Linked DNA regions of Homo sapiens. The protein of the gene in region 1 purifies or fractionates together with the protein of each later gene. This does not show direct contact. Each region holds a gene or a part of one and is shown on either strand. Other genes may lie near its edges.

Region 1 (7,322 bases):
TTTCTTTCTTTATGGAGTTGTGGTATTGCTCTGTTGCCCAGGCTGGAGTGCAGTTGTGCCATCACAGCTCATTGCAGCCTCAACCTCCTGGGCTCCAGTGATCCTTATAGCTTAGCTCCCCAAGTAGTAGCTGGGACTACAGGCCTGCATCAGCACAACCTGGGCTTTATTTTTTATTTTTATTTTCAGAAATGCTCTGGCTATGTTGCCCAGGCTTCTCTCAAACTCCTACCCTCAACTGATCCTCCCACCTCAGCCTCCCAAAGTGCTGGGACAGATTTTCTAACAAACCCCTTCATCATACGGATGAATAAGCTGAAGTTTACAGCCCTTATCCTTGTGACTGTCACTAAGTGGGTAATCAGTAACTACTTGCTCTTTTGTTTATGGCCTAAGTTGTTCAAAATGACCAGTCCATACTAGAATACAAGGTTCCTAATTTCAACACCAGTTTCTTTCACCTCAATCATACTGAGTGATGTGCTTTCATTGGGTCTACTATAAAAATCATTATAGCCATAAATTTTATTTATTTATGTATTTATTTGAGATGGAGTCTCGGTCTATCGCCCAGGCTGGAGTGCAATGGCATGATCTCAGCTCACTACAACCTCTGCCTCCCAGTTCAAGCGATTCTCCTGCCTCAGCCTCCCGAGTAGCTGGGATTACAGGTGCACGCCACCATGCCCGGCTAATTTTTGTATTTTTAGTAGAGATGGGGTTTCACCATGTTGGCCAGCTGGTCTCGAACTCCTGACCTCAAGTGATCTGCTCGCCTTGGCCTTCCAAAGTGCTGGGATTACAGGCATGAGCCACCACGCCCCACCAGCCATAACTTTTACTTCATATATTTTTTTAATAGCTTGAGATATAATTCACATACCATATGATTCACTCATTTAATGTGTAAAGTTGAATGTCTTTTAGCATATTTTCAGAGTTGTGTATTCACCATTATAATCAATTTTTAGAACATTTTCATTATCCTAAAAAGAAACCCCATACCTATTAGCAGGCACTCCCATTTCCCCTCATCTCACCCTCTCATGCCCCTGAGACCTAGCCAATCACTAAATTCACATTTCATACGAATGGAATTGTACAATATGTGGTCCTTTGTGACTGACTTCTTTCACTTAGCTTTTTCAAGATTCAGCTGTATCTCTGGGCATGGTGGCTCACGCCTGTAATCCCAGCACTTTGGGAGGCCAAGGTGGGTGGATCACCTGAGGTCAGGAGTTTGAGATCAGCCTGGCTAACGTAGTGAAACCCTGTTTCTACTAAAAATACAAAAAATTAGCCGGGTGTGGTGGCGCACACCTGTAATCCCAGCTACTCGGGAGGCTGAGGCAGGAGAATCGCTTGAACTTGGGAGGCGGAGGTTTCGGTGAGCTGAGGTTGCACCATTGCACTCCAGCTTAGGCAACAAGAGCGAAATTCCATCTCAAAAAAAAAAAAAAGATTCAGCTATGTCATGGCATGTACTTAAAATTTTTGTTTTCTTTTCTATTCTTTTTTTTTTTTTTTGGAGACGGAGTTTTGCTCTTGTTGCCCAGGCTGGAGTGCAATGGCTCGATCTTGGCTCACCACAACCTCCGCCTCCCAGGTTCAAGCGATTCTCCTGCCTCAGCCTCCTGAGTAGCTAAGAATACAGGTGCGGGCCACCACGCCCGGCTAATTTTGTATTTTTAGTAGATACAGGGTTTCTCCATATTGGTCAGGCTGATCTTGAACATCTGACCTCTGACCTCAGGTGATCCGCCCGCCTCGACCTCCCAAAGTGCTGGGAGTACAGGTGTAAGCCACCGTGCCTGGCCAAAAAAAATTTTTTTTTTTTTTTTTGTCAGGGATGAAGGTCTCACTATGTTGCCCAGGCTGGTCTCCAACTCATGGCACAAGCCATCCTCTTGCAAGTGCTGAGATTACAGGCGCGAGCCACCACGCCTACTCCCCTCCCCTCCAACGACTTTCTTTTTATTGCCAAATAATAGTCCATTGTATACCTATGTCACATTTTATCCATTCATCAGCTGATGGTTATTTAGCTGAATTTTATTTTAACTAAATGTTATCTCTGATAACTGGCAGAAGCTTAAAATCAAGACATAAGTGTGTATCTTTCTATGTTGAACGTATACCTAAAGAAGTATACTTATTAGGAATGACAATTAAAATCTCGTACTTGAAAAATCGATACTTTTTTCTTTTTTCTTTTTTTTTTTGAGATGGAGTCTCACTCTGTCGCCCAGGCTGGAGTGCAATGGTGTGATCTCTGCTCACTGCAACCTCCGCCTCCCAGGTTCAAGCTATTCTCCTGCCTCAGCCTCTTGAGTAGCTGGGATTATAGGTGTGCACCACCATGCCCGACTAATTTTTGTACTTTTTAGTAGAAATGGGGTTTCACCATATTGTTCAGGCTGGTCTTGAACTCCTGACCTTGTGATCCACCCGCCTCGGCCTCCCAAAGTGCTGGGTTACAGGCATGAGTCACCACGCCCGGCTGATACTTTTTTCTTTAAATTTTTTGATGTGTATGATAATATTGTGGAAAGAAAAAGTAAAGCCTTGCCCTATGTTTTTTGGCTCTTCTGATCCCCCAGGAAAAGAGAGGCATGCATATAGGTAGACCAGGTGAGTGACAGCCCTCAGGAAGAGAAAATAAAAGAGGAGAGATTCAGATCAAGACTTTTTCTAGTTTTCAAATATGAAAGGTTAAGAAGAGAAAGGGCATTTGCGGCTCACAGCCAACCAGCTGGTCGGCATTCCTACTACCCAAATATCTAAATGACATAAGGGTGAATGTGGGGTGAGGGTGAGAACGGGAAAAAACACAGGCCGCAAATTCAGTCCCATCTGGCACTTCATAAGACTTAGTATTTTCATCTTTGTCCTTCCAAATTTATAGGTTTACTCTTGCCCAACCTTCATATTGTTTTTATGGGTCTCCAGGTGGGTCATGCGTAGGAAACTTTAGGGGACTACTTCATACTTGGTGGGAAGTACTTAAACTTGTAAACCCCAAGCTAAGGGTAGTTATGATCCCGGTGGGTGGCCAATTCTCCCCTTAAACCTATGTTTATCCTGCCTTTCCTCCCCCTTTTCTTAAACGAGTCGGGACGGAGAGCTGAGTCACCTGAGACACAGAGAAGGGACTTTTGAGAGTGTCTTCCGTCCCATTTGCGGACGTTAGATGAGCACACCGGGATCCTTGACTCAGCCCGCTCTAGGCGTGGGCGTTGTGTCATTCCCCACACGTGACACTCTCCCAGGCGGCAGAAACCTCACTTGTCATGGGACTTATTCACTCCAGTGACTCCACCCCTTACCTCCTCTGTTCCCCAACCTCCCACTTACCCTTTCCGCCCCACTTCAAGACTTGAGGAGAGGAGGGTGGCTGGAGCCTGGAAATGTCCCCGTCCCAAGTTGGCCAGAAGTAGCAGACACACTATGTGGGAAAGTGCCACATGTAACGTTCCAGTTTCACCCTTCTCCAGAATGCTATCACCCTTCCTGTTTATTTTTTAATAACTTGAGATATAATTCACACGCCATATGATTCACTCACTTAACGTGTAAAGTTGAATGTCTTTTAGCATATTTAGAGTTGTGTATTCATCACTATAATACATTTTTTAGAACATTTTTATTATCCCAAAACGAAATCCCATACCTATTAGCAGTCACTCCCATTTCCCCTCATCTCACCCTTGCTCTTCCATAGCACAAAACAGTTCTATTCTATTCGAGACCACCTTTCCACTTGGGCAGACCCTGGTTATGGTTTTTTTTCCCTCCCTTTCTGTTTCCAGTTTTTTTCGGAGCCCGGAATTCTCAATCTGGGTAATTGGTTTGAGTCCCGGCTCAGCCCGTTTCCCGTTGTAGCTGCGTGACCTTGAGAGCAACGCCACTTTCCTGGGCCTAGTTTCTTTGTCTGTGAAACGAGGTCCAAATATCTACCTCTTTACGCCTGTTGTGGGGATGAAGTGAGTAGGTGCTTTGTGAGCTTTAAAAAGCCATAGAAATGCCAGCTAAGTTAACTCGTCACTCTTCCCGAACCCCTCCCTTTCCCCTGGGACCCGCCCCGCGAATCCCGCTGTGGATGGATACTTCTCCCCACCCGCCGACCGCAGTCTTTCCCATTGGCGCCCGCACCGTCTTCGCGGCGCCGGGTGTTGACGCCATGGCTTCCTCCGCCAGCGCCCGAAGACGCTTGGCCCCGCCCCCGGCCGCGCCTGGCCTCCCGCGGCGCCCCGCCCATCGGGCCGACGCGGCGCCGGCCCCGCCCCGCGGATGACGTGTGGCGCGCGCGGCCGGGCCGCCCCGGCAGTTGGTGCAGCGGCGGTTGGGGTGAGAGCGCCTACGCCACCCCTCCCCTCCTCCGGCCCCGGCCCCCACCCCGCCGGGCCCAGCCCCAGCCCCGGCCCGGGCTCCAGCCCTAGTACCCGTCCCAGCCCGAGTCGGGTCCGTCCCGTGCGGGCAGGTGCCGCCCCTCTGCCGGCGACGCCCCGGGCCGCCCGCCCGTCCGCTTGCCACCATGGAGCTGGAGGACGGTGTGGTGTATCAGGAGGAGCCCGGCGGCTCCGGGGCCGTGATGTCGGAGCGGGTGTCCGGCCTGGCCGGCTCCATCTACCGCGAGTTCGAGCGGCTTATCGGGCGCTATGACGAGGAGGTGGTCAAAGAGCTGATGCCGCTGGTGGTGGCTGTGCTGGAGAACCTGGACTCGGTGTTCGCGCAGGACCAGGAGCACCAGGTGGAGCTGGAGCTGCTGCGGGACGACAACGAGCAGCTCATCACCCAGTACGAGCGGGAGAAGGCGCTGCGCAAGCACGCTGAGGAGGTGAGGCCGGCGGCAGGGCGGGGGCCGCGGGATCCGTCTCCGGGGGCGGCCGGGGCGGGGTCGCGGCCCGGTCGGGGACTAGAGGCGCGACGGGCCTCCTGGAGGGCGGGCCTGAGGCCGATGCCCCCTGGGACCGATCCCGGCGGCCTCCAGGTACCCCGGGAGCCAGGCCGGCGTTGGAAGCCGAGGCCGGCTACTGAGTGTCCTGGGAAGGGAGCGAGATGGAGGAGGCAGGGCCCGGGGAGGAAGCGGCAGCCTGGCCTGAGGACACCTGGGGTTGGCCAAGGGCGGAGATTGTTGGGTGTCTGGTTGCTTCTTGTTGAGGGAAGTTTCCGACCACCGTGGGATAGTCAGATGGCGGTTCAAAGTTTTACCCTTGGGGAGGGGGACACTTCTGCCCTGGATATGTAACTTCCGCTAGTTCCAGTACCTTTCCAGGGGGTTGCCTTGCTTTGGGAAGTTAGAGATCTCCCTCTTTCGGTCAGTTTCTTCTTGACGTTTTAATCTTGTTGAGAAAGACGTCTTATTTTATGTTCTATGTGCCTTGGTTGACACTTTGTCAACTTTTAGATGTTGTGTGGCAGTACTCAATAAATATATAAACAATTTCGTTGGTATCCCAAACCAAAGCATTCCTCCGTATCAGGTTGTAACCTTGGACAGTTCCCTTCAAAAACCCTCCGTTTATTTATAAAAAGGATTGGGGGGCGGGGTTGGGAAGATGTAGGTGACAGTTGGCAACACTTTTTCCGTCTGAGTTTCCTTCTTAGACTGCTGTTTATACGTGCATTTGGCCACCTGTTAACTCTAGCACCCGAGCAGTGACCTGGGCGCCCTCACCTCGACTCTGTGAACCTTTTGGAGTTCTAGGGTGCAAGTGATAGGTCCTTGGCTTCTTGAGACTGACAAGGAGTTTAGCTTTCAGCCTGCGTTGGCGTTATTTCTGTGGACCTTATCAAAGGCAGGTGATGTGTCCTATTTTTGTTTCTCAAGCACCTAGCACACCTGCTTAAATACATGGTGATCAAAGGAGGCGAAATAACTAATTATTGAAGGAATGACATAGTATTTTTCAAAAAGACTTGAAGAGTTTTTAGGATGTGAGGTTTGTAGCTCATTTCCTGACACTGAATAGTAACACCATTAAATTTTTGTTTTATTTTGTCACGTATACCTTTGCATCTGGTTAAATAGTTCTTTTTCCTTTTTTAAAAGCTTGACTGTAGTGATGATTTTTAGTTCTGATTGTGGGATCCAATTTTCTCAAAGGAATGCTATTGAATTTGCCAAACAAAATTGCCTTTTTTTTTTTTTTTTTTTGAGACGTAGTCTCACTCTGTCGCCCAGGGTGAAGTGCAGTGGAGTGATCTTGGCTCACTGCAACCTCTGCCTGCCGGGTTCAAGCGATTCTTGTGCCTCAGCTTCCTAAGGAGCTAGGACAACACTCCCCGCTCATTTTTGTTTTTTGTAGAGACAGGATTTCTCCATGGTGCCTAGGATGGTCTTGAACTCCTGGCCTCAAGTGATCTGCCCACTTTGGCCTCGGGCTGACCATCCCAGTGCTGGGATTACAGGCATGAGCCACCGCACCCCGCCAGAATGGACTATTTCAAGAGCTTTTCCTTTCATATAGGGAAGGAAGGGATGAAAAACCAAATAATGATAGGATCACAATTTCCGCTTGTTTGTTAGCACTCTTTATAGAACAGAGGTCAAGTGCTACTTGCTGCTTCATGCTCATATAGCCCCTTGCCAGTGTGTGGATATACATGGAAGTGACTGGGAATTAACCACATGTACACACAGGTGACAAGCAAGCCTGACATGACCTTTTACCTCACGTAAAATAAATGCTCCCTCCAGCCTTAAACTCCTGTCAGTCCGTGTAAATATGGGCAAAATGCCAGGGTCACACGTGCCAAGAAAACCATCTGCCACAGGTTGCAGAATCAGAAAACAAAATTGCCCGACTGCTAGACTCTGGGTTCCCTATTAATTTCTTGAGTAAATGACTCTAAAAAAAATAGGTTATCCAATGAATTTATTTGTAGTTTATATTTTTTCAGTTACATCTGTAAATTCTCCATAGTGAAACCATTGGGCAAAGGGTCATGACCTGAGAACAGAGAACATTTATGAAATGCTAAATGAGCCCACTCCCAGGCCACAAACATAAACACACCTTGTTATCAGTTTTCTTTTCTCTTTTTTTTTTTTTTTGAGACAGAGTCTCTCTCTGTCGCCAGGCTGGAGTGCAGTGGCACGATCTCGGCTCACTGCCTCCCGGGTTCAAGCAATTCTTCTGCCTCAGCCGCCCGAGTAGCTGGGACTATAGGCACGTGCCACCCCGCCCAGCTAATATGTATATATATTTTGTATTTTAGTAGAGACGGGGTTTCACCTTGTTGCCCAGGCTGGTCTTGAACTCCTGAGCTCAGGCAATCCACTCGCCTCAGCCTCCCAAAGTACTGGGATTACAGATGTG
Region 2 (7,033 bases), on another chromosome or scaffold:
ATTACAGGTGTGAGCCACCACACTCGGACTTAACTGACCTTTTCCACGACATTAAGATTAGGACTTGGTTTTTCATCTGAGTTTCTTCATTTATATATCAGAGAAACTGTTACTTGCTTTTCCTTTCATGGGATTCTGAGAATTCAATATAAAGCATTTTTAAAAGGGTTATAGTTTCTTTCTTTTTCTTTTTTTTTTTTGAGACAGGGTCTTATTCTTATTCTATAGCTCAGGCTGGAGTGCAGTGGTGAAACTGTAGCTCACTGCACCCTTGAACTCACAGGCTCAAGTGATACTTCTACCTCGGCCTCCAAACTAGCTGCGACTATAGGCGCATGCCACCATGCCTGGCTACTTTTTAAATTTTTTAATGGAGATGAGGTCTTACAATGTTAACCTGGTTGGTCTCACACTCCTAGTGCAAGTGACCCTCCCACCTCAGCCTCTCAAAGTGCTGAGTTTACAGGTGTGAGCCATCACGTCTGGCTGGTTATAGCTTCTTGTTGGAAGGCATTTAATTAATCAGTGTCTTCTAAAACTATTAATACCCACTGCAATCAGAGTTTCTTGTTCAAGAAAAAGTTCTATTTAACAAAAGAGAAAAGAAAAATATGGTGTCCCAAAGAAAAAGTTCCTATGTCTTTTGCTTTGTTTTCTTGAATTTATGAAGCATTTACCTTTTAAGTTAAAAAAAAAAAAAGCCTCTAAAGTATATCAGATATGTCAGGGCAGGCTTCAGATGCCAATTTCATTACACATATTTTGAGGTTCTAAATATGCAAGGCACTGGAGATTCAAAGATCAGCATGGATAATTTTCTATACTTCACAGGACTAGAGAATTAAATGGAATAACATCTGCAAACCTATGAGCAAAATAGGAGAGAGAAACATAGTACAGAGAATAAAGTCTTGAAGTTCACACTGCCGAAGTGTGATTCATAGCTCTGTCACTTACTGGAACCCTGAAGTGGGATCTGGTAGTCTCTCTAGTCTGTTTCCTTGACTCTAAGATGGGGAATAATGGTATTTGTCACAAGGGGTGATTGGGCATTAAATGAGACTGTGCACATAAAGTGCATATCACAGTGCCTGGTACACAGAAAGGTCAATAAGTGCTAGCCATTTTTAGTGCCTTCCACATAATGGGTCTTAATACATGGCCCATTTTCTTTTTCCTACACTTCAATTTCTAAGAGATATTTCTTTCAAAATGAAGTCTTTAAATGATTTCTTATACCAATAATCTTTTTCTTCTGGGGCCTTCTGATATGATCTGAGACTAATACCACTCAGAATTCTATAAGGAATCAAACTCTACTTTGAAAAGACCCTTTGTCATGGGAGTCAATCTAAACAATCAAACCCCAAACAAACAGATGAATCAGAAAGTAAAAACTAAAATGACTATCAGGGTAAAGCCCAAGATTACTAGTCCAAACAGTGCCTTATGGCAGATAAAATGTGATTTGCCATATAATTTTTATTTACCCTTGTTTTTCAGCAGTAGGTCTGTGGCTTAAAGAAGGCAACATGACTGCTCTATTGAAGTTGGGTTTGCATTCCTGGTAACATTTTTCATTAATGACCGCCAGATCACCATCTTACCTGCTGCTTTGAGAAGAGCTGCCAGCCTGGTGGACCCTCTCCCAGCTGCTATATGCAGGGGTGTGGTTCCATCGTAGGTAGTACTGTCCACATGGGCATCACCCTACAATCCAGCCCACACAAGAAAGCGTTAGTGGAAGGTTCTTTTGCCCTTTTGTCCCCACCTCCCAGTGTGCATGGCTCCTTGGGTCCTATTACTAGCCCAATTGCTACTTTGGGCTGGCTCTGTCATTGAAGAAATCCCCAGTTAGAGATGCCAAGCAAGGGGGTTGGGGGAATGTCTAAAGGTGGTACTCTGAAGCCCTCCATAAATGTTAAACAAATAGAGCTGATTGTAAGGGAGAACAGCAGCTACTGACTTCCTTCTTTGAAAAGATTTCCTTAAATCTCCCTCAGAAATTTAATGCAAAAGCAAATAAGTGTGCCCTTCACCTCCAGGAGCAGGCAGCCTGCCAATGAGATGTTGTCGTGCTCCACAGCCAGGTGCAGTGCTGTGCGCCCGGACTTCTGCTCCTGAGCATTGACGTCAGCCCCAGCGGCCACCAGCAGCAGCAAACATGGCAGGCTATTGCTCATCATGGCTAGATGAATGGCATTCAGACCTAGAGTCCAAGCAAAGGGACAGTCACAGGATGGGATGGCTAACTCACAAGATGGCCCTTGTGAAGCTGAAGGAAATGGCAAAAACTGAATCATGGGGAGGGACAGTAAAGATACTATAAGTCTATTGTTCTGCTTTGAAGACCCACAGTCTCCTATTATGTTCTCAGGAGACATGAACATAAATAAACATTCTCTGAATAAACGACGCTTTGTGTACTTCAAGATGAATCTTTACTCAGGCCTCTGCTTTCTCCTCCTACTAACTATTCCAAATCATCTTTAAAAAAATTAGCTTTGGTGAGCAACAGAAATGCCCAAAAGAGATGATGAACTCCAGGTGACTAAGGAAAGCACTTTTGGGTGCAAATCAAATAACACACGTTTATCAAATACCTAGTAGATATTTAGAAGGTGGAGAAAGTTACACCAATGATGTGTGATTGTCTCTTACCGTCCCCGTTGGGGTGGTCAAGAAGTAGTGCTGCCTTTTTGTGCTTGAGTAAGATACTGAGAACTTTATCATGTCCTTCTTTGGCAGCTAGGTGCAAAACAGAGTTACCCAAGCGGTCCAGAAGGCTCAGGTCGGCCCCAGCCCTCAGCAAATCCTCCACCACATCTTCCTGCTTAGTGATCACTGCCAAGTGCAAGGGCGTCTGGAAAGTGAAAGGGCAGGAGATTCACTGGTCAGCAGTGAATACTTACTTACAACTCACAGCTTGGTAGCTGTTACTGCAATAGGTGGGGCCATACTGCAGGAATATTTCTCATTCCCAGATTAACTTCTGACCTTGGCACCCAAGTTATCCTGTTCCATACTATATGCTAATGAAGTACATATACTGTACTAACACTTAGCCATTCAATAATTCATGTTTTAAAATTCTTATTTATCTTAAATTTAATTGACAAATAGTAATTGTATATATTTATGAGGTACAATGTGATGTTTTAATCTAAGTTTACAACATAAAATGATTAAATCAGGCTAAGTTACAAATCCATCACTTCATATACTTACAATTTTTTCTGTGGTGGGTTATTTTCATATTTACAAGTCTTAATAGCTTCTTGTTTCTCACTACAACCCACTGATTGTTGATTTTGAGCACACCTAGTAGTAAATTTAGTTTTCTTAAATATCTGGTAGGAGTTACCTCCAGCTGATAATTTTATATTAACAAATCAAATTAAGGCTATGTTTTCACTGAAGAAATTTAAATAAAGTACTCAATAGAAACCAATTAACAAAAGTGCCATGATTCTATGCTGACATGGAAACTAAATTTACTAAATTAAAAAATACTGTCCCATGGACTGGCTCCTGAGACCAGTCAATATAGCTTTCCTACACCCATTTCATAAAAGGTATTATAAGATTCTAAATAACATAACCAGGATAATACAAGTATCTCACCAAGGGGGCTCAGCTGAATAAAAAAGGTGAGCTGCTGATACCTAATAGGTACTTAAATAGTCCATTTGACTATCCTGCCCACAAGGTATTACTTCGGTGAATGCAAATAAGATGTTTTGCAAACTGTGTGTTTTCAAAAATGAGTAAGACAAATACAATCACAAACGTATCTTTCAAATAACTGAGTTCACTGACAGAGAACAGCAATGTATCTTTATACAAATCAGTTTATTTCACAGGAGCCTAACTATGACATCCAGCCAGTCTTGTGACAATTTGCCTAAAATTCCCTTTTCATTGAGCAGTTACTGGCTACAGCAGCAGGTGAGCCACCAACCTCCTAGCTGTGTAGGTGACCACAGCACATGATAACTGGCAGGATGAATGATGGGAGGGTAGTCTAAATCTCAACTACAGTGATTATTTACTATACAAGACCCTTTTTTTTTGCCAAATTATTACTTGCCCTTATTTCTTTCATTTTCTAGGACTATCAACCTGGCCTGAAATGAAGTGATGTCCTCAAAACTTTAGATATTGTTGCCAAGAGCCTTCTTCTCAAAAATAAGTCAATGGAAACTGTGTTTACTAATCTGTGTTTTCTGAAATGCTACTTGGGGAGATGGGAAAAGGAAAGAGAATGAGATTGTGAAAAAAGGATCTGAAATTATAAGATAGTATACCATTCAGGAATTATAAATTATCTGTAGCTTGAATTTAATTAAAAAATATCTTATGAGTCGGAGAGGTTTTTTTTTTTTAATATTTTCTTCCACAGTCCAATCAATGGTTTTCCATGATATAAACCTTCTAGTTCTTAAATCCAAGGATTATATCTTAAACAATTATACCTTCATGCTATGGCTGTGGGCATGGGGACTTACACAGACATTCTGGAAAGCCAAATATACAAATGTCCCAGCAACCCAACTCTTGCAGATGTATCTGGGTGAAATTCTGACACAAATCCACAAGAGGACATAAGTGAGGACAGTCACTGCAGTATTATCTACTGAGGTAGGAAGTTAGAAGTTGGTTAAATGTCTACTACTAGGAAACAAGGATGTTATAGGTGAAAGACCCATACTAGATTCTCTTCAGGAGCTGAAACAACAAACTAGCTATATGTAGAACTGTGTGGATAAGCAGTGAAGGCAGAAATACAGTAACATGTAGCACAATGCCACTTAGGCATTTAAAAAATATATGCACAAAGAACTATACAGATACACACAAGTGTGTGTAAAACTGGTGAAATCTGATTAAGATCTGTGGATTGTATCAACGTCTATTTCCAGGTTTTGACACTGTTCTGAGGTTATGCAGGATGTTACCATTGGGGGAAACTGGGTGAAGAGACCTCTGGTTTCCTTGCAGTAAATACTAGGACTTCCTAGTACGTTTTTGTAACCTCCTTTGAATCTATAATTAAATTAAATTAAAAAAATTTTAAAGGTTAATGCAAGGCAAGAGAAGTACATTTAATATAATGTGGATTGTATGTGAGAGTATATGAAAATATCTATGTATTTCAAGTATACGTACATTTGTATCCAGTACTTGAAAAACTACCTATAAACACAATAGTGACATTTGTGCTAGCAGACCTGGGCATTGTCAGGGTGGGCAACTTTGACTTTCCAATGTAGATTCTTCTGTACCATTTTTAAAACTATGAATATACATGATATGTATAATAATTAAAAACATAAAAATACATAAAACCCTCCAATAATGTTTTATGGGAACATACACAAATAAAACAATCCATACCAAACACGATAGAGTGGTTGTCTATGTTGGGGGAAGGAGAATGAAAGGAGAAAAAGGCTTAAAGAGAATATTTTCATAAAAAATCCTAACTCGGTGCACTTGGACTATTTTGAGTGTGTTTCTAGAGGGTGGGTGGGGAGAGGAATTTGATCATGACAGATGGTCACAGAAATGTACTTAGATTAGTGAAAGGTATTTGGGAAGAATGCTTAACTGTCAAATAATCCAAATTATTTAGAGAACTGTATCATTTTCCATTAAGAATAGTTACTAGAGAACCTTTACAACAGATAATCAAGAGTTCAAATCTTAGCAGTTTCTAATTCTCAAATCAAAGTTGCCATTGGGTGTGTGTTTGACACCTAGAAGGCATACTAGGGAAGCCAGAATCACTGCCCATTAATCAGACTGGTGGTAAGGTAGGGGAAAAATGGACGTATAGTCTTCTGAGAGTCCCCAAATCAGAAGGGATAGAAGTATCAATGGTGGCGGTTTCAGGGTTTTTGTCTCTAACACACTGGAGAGTCTCAACATATGTAACCAAATGATACAGTAAAGAGTTTAGGATATAAAAAAAAAATCATAGCTACTGGCCAGACGCAGTGGCTCATGCCTGTAATCCCAGCACTTTGGGAGGCCGAGGCTGGCAGATTACGAGATCAGGAGTTCAAGACCAGCCAGACCAACATGGTGAAACCCCATCTCTACTAAAAATACAAAAATTAGCTGGGTGTGGTGGTGCACGCCTGTAATCCCAGCTACTCAGGAGGCTGAGGCAGAAGAATCGCTTGAACCTGGGAGGTGGAGGTTGCAGTGAGCCGAGATCGCGCCACTGCATTCCAGTCTGGGTGACAGAGTGAGACTCTGTCTCCAAAAAAAAATCACAGCTACTAATCCTGTTGTGCTGTGTCCTTTGCAGATCCTATTTATAAACATAAAATAAGTAATTCCTTGAATATGACTGTTAAGCAGGGTTTGAAAAGAGGACTGACAAGCTACAATGTCCCATTCCTGGTTTTATTCATAGATTTGTGATGACTACAAGGAACAATCAGCCAAAAGTCTGCGAGAATCAAGCTTTACAGGCAAAATGACCTTACGGATACCAATGACCCCAAAACGGTATGAAAGTTTCAAGAAGACATCCTTTAAATGTAAATCTACAATCACACTTCATACTAGTTATTTTATATTAACAGGCAGTGAAGAGTCACTAACTTTACTTTTCCTTTGACAAGAAGCACAAGAGCCAGTGAAGAAGCCTAATGGTGACTTATATTGAATGAAAAATGGTCATTTTCCCCTATCAGGAAACCTATTAATTTTTACCTAGTCACAGGTAAAAACTATTAAGAGCCACATGTAAACGTTTTAGTAGTTTTGCTTTAAATGCACTTTAAAGCACACTTTTTTTTTTTTTTTTGAGACAGAGCGTCACTCTGTCACCCAGGCTGGAGTGCAGTGGCGCGATCTCGCCTCATTGCAAGCTCAGCCTCCAGGTTCACACCATTCTCCTGCCTCAGCCTCCCGAGTAGCTGGGACTACAGGCGCCTGCCACCATGCCTGGCTAATTTTTTTTTTTTTTTTGTATTTCTAGTAGAGACGGGGTTTCACCATGTTAGCCAGGATGATCTCG

Evidence for each region. The genes of interacting proteins can lie anywhere in the genome.
Region 2: the proteins of SPAG9 (region 1) and NFKB1 purify together in Homo sapiens (affinity purification with mass spectrometry; 5 studies listed by BioGRID and IntAct, with this or other methods). This does not show direct contact.

What each region holds. Positions count from the first base shown.
Region 1 is NC_000017.11:51,117,869-51,125,190, reverse strand, and holds the start of SPAG9 (C-Jun-amino-terminal kinase-interacting protein 4), read left to right. Parts: upstream 1-4,322; 5' UTR 4,323-4,534; coding exon 4,535-4,837; intron 4,838-7,322. UniProt on the Homo sapiens protein: The JNK-interacting protein (JIP) group of scaffold proteins selectively mediates JNK signaling by aggregating specific components of the MAPK cascade to form a functional JNK signaling module.
Region 2 is NC_000004.12:102,602,326-102,609,358, reverse strand, and holds part of NFKB1 (nuclear factor NF-kappa-B p105 subunit), read right to left. Parts: intron 6,845-7,033; exon of another isoform or gene 6,373-6,844; intron 2,864-6,372; coding exon 2,662-2,863; intron 2,210-2,661; coding exon 2,040-2,209; intron 1,711-2,039; coding exon 1,608-1,710; intron 1-1,607.